Homo sapiens: one gene and its partner. The protein of the gene in region 1 purifies or fractionates together with the protein of each later gene. This does not show direct contact. Each region holds a gene or a part of one and is shown on either strand. Other genes may lie near its edges.

Region 1 (3,695 bases):
CTATGGGGAGCATGTGCTGGTCAGCTGGCATGGGGCAGGCCCAGGTAGGACAGTGGATGGTTGGCCTGAAAGGGTGTCAAGTCCTCCATTTGTTCAGCTTTGAATCCCCACTTGGAGTATCTCCTTTTTATCCTATATTCTCCATAGCATCTCAGCACAGAGGGACCCCCAAGTGGGAGCCCCATCAGTATAAATGAATGAGTCTGGAACAGTGGCCCAGAAAGACAGGGTTAGCAGCACCTGGCAGGGAGAGAAGGAACAAGATAGGAATGGACTGAGGTTACAGCTGGCAGCTGGGGCCCCTAAGGACTCACTCAGCTTCTCCCTTCTTCCAGGTGGACATGATCTCACTAGCCAAGCAGATCATCGAAGCCACACCGGAGCGGATTAAACGAGAGGACTTCGTGGGGCTGCCCGAGGCTGGAGCCTCAATGCGGGAGCGGACAGGGGCTGTGGGGCTCAGTGAGACCATGTCCTGGCTGGCCAGCTACCTGGAGAATGTGGACCATTTCCCCAGCTCAACCCCTCCCAGGTGACTAGCTCAGGACAAAGCCTCCAGATTCTTCAAAGGAAGATGGGAGGAAGGGAGAAAGCTGGCTTTCCCACAGCCAAAGCTCCATTCTGGCTGAGGCCCCAGGGCCTTGGAGAAGCGAACTGAACTGGCTGATGAACTCTGAAGTCACTCTCCAGACTCAGTTGCTGGTGGTTTTCCTTCGTAGCCATCCATAGGTGGCAGAGGAGGGACTTCAGATGCTTCATGACACCCTCTTTCCCTACCGCCTACAGCGAACTGCCCTTTGAGCGAGGTCGCCTGGCTGTCCCTTCAGCACCCTCCTGGGCAGAGTTTCTCTCTGCATCCACCAGTGGCAAGATGGAAAGTGATTTTGCCCTGCTGACACTATCAGATCACGAGCAGCGGGAACTGTATGAGGCTGCCCGAGTCATCCAGACGGCCTTCCGAAAGTACAAGGTCAGGGGCAGGGGTCTCAGGATGAATTACACAATCTCCAGTCAGGGGAGACTGGGCTCCCAGGGCTTTTGGAGGATGAGTAGTCGTGCAGACAGGCCTTGGATGGGGTAAAGGGTCAGGGGAACCCCAGGAAAGTTGAAGGGACAAGTCAGATATGCCATTATGTGGGTCATGAGGTGGTGAGACTTCTCTCCCTTCAGGGCCGGCGGCTGAAGGAGCAGCAGGAGGTAGCAGCAGCTGTAATCCAGCGCTGTTACCGGAAGTACAAGCAGGTGAGACCCTTCTCCCTCAAAAGTGTAACCAGCAACCCACCAACCCACACCCACGCCTAACCATTCCAGAATGTTGCCAGAGCCCTAACTCCCCTTCTCTCTCCACAAGCTGACCTGGATTGCACTTAAGGTATTAGGCATGAGCTCTGAGTGTGAGGTCTGTGATGATTCAGTCTTTCCTTGAGTGTGTGGGTTACAGAGAGTCTTGCATCAGCCTAACTTGGGTGAGCCTCAGGGCTTTGGGTCTCCGTCCCTCTATTTCAGCCCCTGTCCCTCCTCCCCACCCCTGCAGTTTGCACTCTATAAGAAGATGACCCAGGCGGCCATCCTGATCCAGAGCAAGTTCCGAAGCTACTATGAACAGAAGCGATTTCAGCAGAGCCGCCGAGCGGCTGTGCTCATCCAGCAGCACTACCGCTCCTACCGCCGCAGGCCCGGCCCTCCCCACCGGACTTCGGCCACCCTGCCTGCCCGCAACAAGTAGGGCCCAGCCCCAGCCCTCTGTGCCCACCCACTGCATCCACGCCATTCCCCCTTACTCATCCTCTTGATCATCATGCCTCACTGCCATTCCCTGCCTAGGGTTCCTGGGGGGGCCGAAGGCATGCGATGCCTTCTGTGAGGTCCATCTTTTGTTTCTTTCACCAGAGGCTCCTTTCTCACCAAGAAGCAGGACCAGGCAGCCCGGAAGATCATGAGATTCCTGCGGCGCTGCCGACACAGGTACTCATCCCTTCTCCCCCTGGGCTTTTGCGTTGCCACCCGTCGTGATCCGCCAGTCTCCTCTGACTCCTATCTTTCTCTCTGCAGGATGAGGGAACTGAAGCAGAACCAGGAGCTGGAAGGGCTTCCCCAGCCGGGACTGGCCACATGACCTGGCCACCGCCTTTCTCACCACCCTGGGGGCGCCTCGTGCAGTCTTAACAGGGAGAGGGCTTTCTGGGGCAGGGGGAGCCCCTGTCGGCAGCTTTCCTGTTCACCTTTGTTGGAGCCCTCTGTAGGCCTCCTCCCTCCTCCCCACGCCTTGCTCCCACACCCCTCTCCTCGTCCCTCCTGGTCGTGCCCCGTCTCTTTTGGTCCTGGCTCCAGAAAACCCGCGCCCCACATACCTGCATCTTCCGCTGTGACCTCCGGAGCCCTGCCTGCCCCTGCTCCCCAGCTCCTCCTGCCTGCACCCGACTCGGCCCCCTCCTGACTTGCCTTATTTATTTGTTCGACGCGTCTCTGAATGTATCCGCCTCGGTTCCCACCACTGCCTTCGCTGCGCACGCCCCTCGTGTTTCAGGGCTGACCGTGTCCCCACCCGACTCCGCATGTTTGCGTCTGTTTCCTCCCTCTCTGGCCCTGTCTTACCCCATCACCCGACTCTGGCCACTGACCTCAGGGCCGAAGGGGAGGTGGTGTACATAGGAACGCGTTGCGGAGTCCGCCCCGTCCCCCGAGGGGAGGGGTCTTGTACATACTGTAACATACAGAGTATAGTGAAGAATCTATTTAAGGCGCCGCGGGGAGGGCTGCACGGCCGGGCTTGTGGTTCTCTAGCGCGGCGGGGGCCTCCTGCCGGCTCCACGGGCACTTTCTACTTGTGCATGGGCTTGGTTTATACGAATTGCCATTAAACATCGCTGCACCAGCCAGCCTCCGGCCTCTGTCTGCGGGGGCGGGGCGGGGCCTAGGCCAGCTGGAGGCCGCCATGCACCGCGGGCCTGGGATCTGCGCCCAGGCCAGGCGGGCCCAGGGTTTTCCGCCTCCGACGTGTTTCCGGCCTTAAAGGCATTCCGCCCTTCCCTTTAAGACGCACCGCCCCCTCTCAGTCACTCCCAAGATGGCGGACCTACTGGGCTCCATCCTGAGCTCCATGGAGAAGCCACCCAGCCTCGGTGACCAGGAGACTCGGCGCAAGGCCCGAGGTGAGGATCCCAAATTCACAACCGCCTTCCTTCGCCCGGTTCTCGGGACCATACTTCTCCCTCTTTGGACGATGCCGCCTCCTCAACCTTGAAAGACCCCTCACAGGCCCCTTCCGAGACCCTCAGAGTCCCTAAAAGGGCTGCTGACACGCCCGCTGTTCTTAGCGGACAGTGATTGGCTACCTGAAAGATAGCGCCAGCCTCCTGCCTCTTCTCCCGACCCTGGCCTTCCGCAGTCCTTGTTTCCCATTAGCCGGCCGTCCCGCCTGTCCGCTGCTGACCTGGTCTGATTGGTAGGGTGCCTCCAACCTGCCGCATTCCTGCCCCGCTCACCTCTAGCTCTATTTCGATTGGATTTAGGACACGCCATCTACTGTGCCTTCATCTCTATTGGCTATCTCAACTTAAAGCTCTGCCTCCTCAGGCCTGTTCGACCTTCCTTCGAAACCACCCCAGCCTGCGAATTCCCATTGGTTGCAGGGTCCTCTGTGTGTTCTTGCCCCTCCTGCTTAATTTAACCCAGTCCCTTCTGCCTCCCTCCGA
Region 2 (3,074 bases), on another chromosome or scaffold:
TCCTATTAGCTTTCTCCCTCACATGGCTGGAGAATTGTAAGAATCCTACCACTCAGAACAAAGTAAGCGAGCTTAAAGAAACCCATGCCAAACTTTGTTTTTGTCCCGTAATTACCATAAAATCCCAATTATTAAGGCAGGAGTACTACACTTTACAGTTTAAAGCAGTGTTTCCTTCCAGCCCTGTTTATTCTATTCTCCTTTGGGTTTGAACTTCAAGGTCTACACTAGATACTTTCCAAGGCTGCTTCCTCTGTTGGTCAGATCAGACGCTGCTTTGTTAGCTGTGGTTGCTACAGAAGCTCTGTTTCAGTTCCAGAGCTCTGTGCTGATGGGGACAATGGAATATGATGCAATGATCACCAGTGATTCTCAGTCTCTCCTGAGACACCAGAAGGTAAGTCACAGTCTGAAGAGTCTCACTCAACCTTCTCAACACAATCTAGCTGAGAGACATGGGGAGAGGTGGAAGCACAATATTCAGTAGAGGAAAAACAAGATCTTGTTCTCTGACAGGTTTATTAGCTTTCATGTTAATGGATGTTTTTAAACCCTGCAACCCTCTGTCAACTTCTTTCCACATCAAGAGGCCATGAGATACAGTAATGGCCTCTTAAGAGTCATGCCACATAAAGATGATGACTTTGATGTCCTGGCCTGCCTCCTGTAACAATGTGAGGCTGTTTTGGGTACATGCTGTAATAACAACAGGACTATCACAGGAACAATGAAGCAGAGAAGCAGAAGGTGCCTACAAAGTTTTACCTAAATGTCTTGTTTGTCAGGATGGAGCTGATGCGCCCATACTGGCAGAACAATTAGCACAGAGTAGTTCTGAAAAGGAGGAAGAATTCACAAAGCATCAGTTATGGGTGCAGGGAAGTCGCCATCTGCCAATGGGCACCAGAGTGTCACTGTACTGGAAGGGGAAAAGGAGTGGGCTGGATGAGATCCAGGGGCCTCTCTGCCCATGTTCAAAGTCAGTAGCTGCTCTGCCTGCCGGCATCACAGTGTCAACACATTTTGTGTGTGTCTCACTCAGTCTCACACCCAAGAAAGTAAAAACAATTGATGTAGGAATAAGGGGAATGGATAAAGAATGGTACATGCTTATTCTAAAGCAGGAGAGCCTACAGATTGTTGTCAAAGCTCATGTCTATCTCTGTCCTCGAGGCCTCCACACCATCTCCCTCTCCCTCCTCCAGAATCCAAGGGATGAGCCCGTTTCCCTTTATGAGACGAGGTGGAGCAGTACCTCTAGTTTTTGGCTGCTCATGGCCTCAGAGTTGCTGTTTGGAAAGGAAAAAGAGCAGCAGAGGCAGCAAAGAAAAGTACTAGGGCAGCACCTTTAGGTTAGAAATAGATTCCACAGTTAAAAGCACAAGTATAATATGCATTAAACAGAGAAGGGCCTCAATAGAATGGTCACAATATGCAAGTGTGTCCCACTCATTTACAATATTAGGATTCCAGGAGCTGCCAGAAATAAGTCATCTCATTAACATACCTACCTGCAGTTCTGATGTCTGGCTATTAGTAAACAAGGCCTACGTTTGTTTCTCTAAAATTTAGAATCTTAAACTAAATCCTTTATTTCAAAAACAAACATAAAATAATTTCCCAGGCAGAGAAAAGGTTTGAGATGGAAGCGTTCTTGTTAGCAGTCCCTTCCTGCATAAATGGGGTTGGAGAGAGAGGAGAGAGGGAATGGCCAAGGGTATGGAAAGCTTTCACAATGCATGCCGAGTGTGAAGTGACACCCCCAGCAGATGGGGTTTATCATCTTTACTTAGTCACACAACATCAAGGACTGGTTAGTTCCAGGGAAGGGCTCCATTTCACTACCTGGGTCAGTTCTCTTCCCCCGCATGCTCCACAATGCAGTAGAACCAAACAACACATTCATTTACAATAGAATGTTTAAATAACACCTGTCCAATAACTGCCCTTACTTCTTTGTGCTGTCGGGAAAAGAAAAAACAGAAAGCAATAAAACCCAAACCCTTTGGCAAGCCAGCCGGTGCCTATTCTCCTGGGGCATTTTTAGTGGAACTTCGGCTGGGCCTTGCCCTCCTCCCAATATCAGTGAGGAAAGTGGCAGCGGGACAGGTTTGGTCATCTGCAGTGGAGTAGAAAGAGGAACCAAACACGATTCGGGCCACAGGTGGATTCTGGCACATTTTTAGATTGGATTGGTTAAAAATGTCATGTTGTACACAGGATGCAGGCAAAGGAGTTTTTTTTTGAGGGACATAATGCCTATAGGCAGCATGAACGGTCCGATCTACCCTTGGGGAGGAGCTCCCTGTGTAGGGACGGAGAAACTAGGGGGCCTCGAGGAAGGTGTTGGTTCGGAAGATGGAGGAGACAATCTTTCCGGTGGCATTGATGGTGCCTTCGCTGTCTGAGCTGGACTCGGAGTCGCTGCTCCCAGAGTAGGCACCCAGGCCTGGGAGGATGCCGATACATACTGCAGCAGAGGGGCAGTGGATGGAGGGGCCACTCAGGGAGGTGTTTCCGAGAGACTTGCAGGATGAGGGCTCTGCAATAAAAGGGGAAAGACTGTCACTTCATCACCCTTTTCCAAAGTTGGGGACTGACTTACCATGTGCCAGGCACTGTACCAAGGGATTTTCCCACAGAGGAGCCTTAGAACAATGCTATGCAGCCAATACTATCATCACCCTCGTTTTAGAGATGGGGAAACTGAAGGAGGAAGGGAGGCTCCAGGAGGTGAAAGGACTTCTGAAAGTAAAGGGGCAGAGCTGAGACTTGAATCAAGGTCTTTTTAACCCCAGAGCCTGACTACACTCTCTTGTTCCCCATCAAATCCGAGTTGGAGAACAAGCTACTCTGGAGTGTAGCCTAGAGTGCTTTGATTTCCCTGTGCTCACACAGCCGTGAGAATCTGAAAACAGATTAAGAGAGACACTGTGAGCAATATTAACAATTCCATTAAGTTCTCAGCGTATTACACCATTTCTTATTTACTGACCAATAAGCCAGCTAGCACAGATACAATTTTAAGGCCAAACATCAGCTACAAAATAACATTCTTTTCTTTTTAAACATTT

What was found.
Region 2: the proteins of CAMTA2 (region 1) and PSME3IP1 purify together in Homo sapiens (affinity purification with mass spectrometry; 3 studies listed by BioGRID and IntAct, with this or other methods). This does not show direct contact.

The regions. Positions count from the first base shown.
Region 1 is NC_000017.11:4,967,177-4,970,871, reverse strand, and holds the end of CAMTA2 (calmodulin-binding transcription activator 2), read left to right. Parts: intron 1-335; coding exon 336-532; intron 533-721; exon of another isoform or gene 722-786; coding exon 787-970; intron 971-1,100; exon of another isoform or gene 1,101-1,170; coding exon 1,171-1,242; intron 1,243-1,351; coding exon 1,352-1,372; intron 1,373-1,534; coding exon 1,535-1,722; intron 1,723-1,890; coding exon 1,891-1,965; intron 1,966-2,052; coding exon 2,053-2,116; coding exon of another isoform or gene 2,117-2,166; 3' UTR 2,167-2,875; downstream 2,876-3,695. Other genes in the region: SPAG7 (sperm-associated antigen 7), read left to right, coding at 3,068-3,152. UniProt on the Homo sapiens protein: Transcription activator. May act as tumor suppressor.
Region 2 is NC_000016.10:57,151,966-57,155,039, forward strand, and holds the end of PSME3IP1 (PSME3-interacting protein), read right to left. Parts: intron 2,543-3,074; coding exon 2,325-2,542; 3' UTR 501-2,324; downstream 1-500. UniProt on the Homo sapiens protein: Promotes the association of the proteasome activator complex subunit PSME3 with the 20S proteasome and regulates its activity.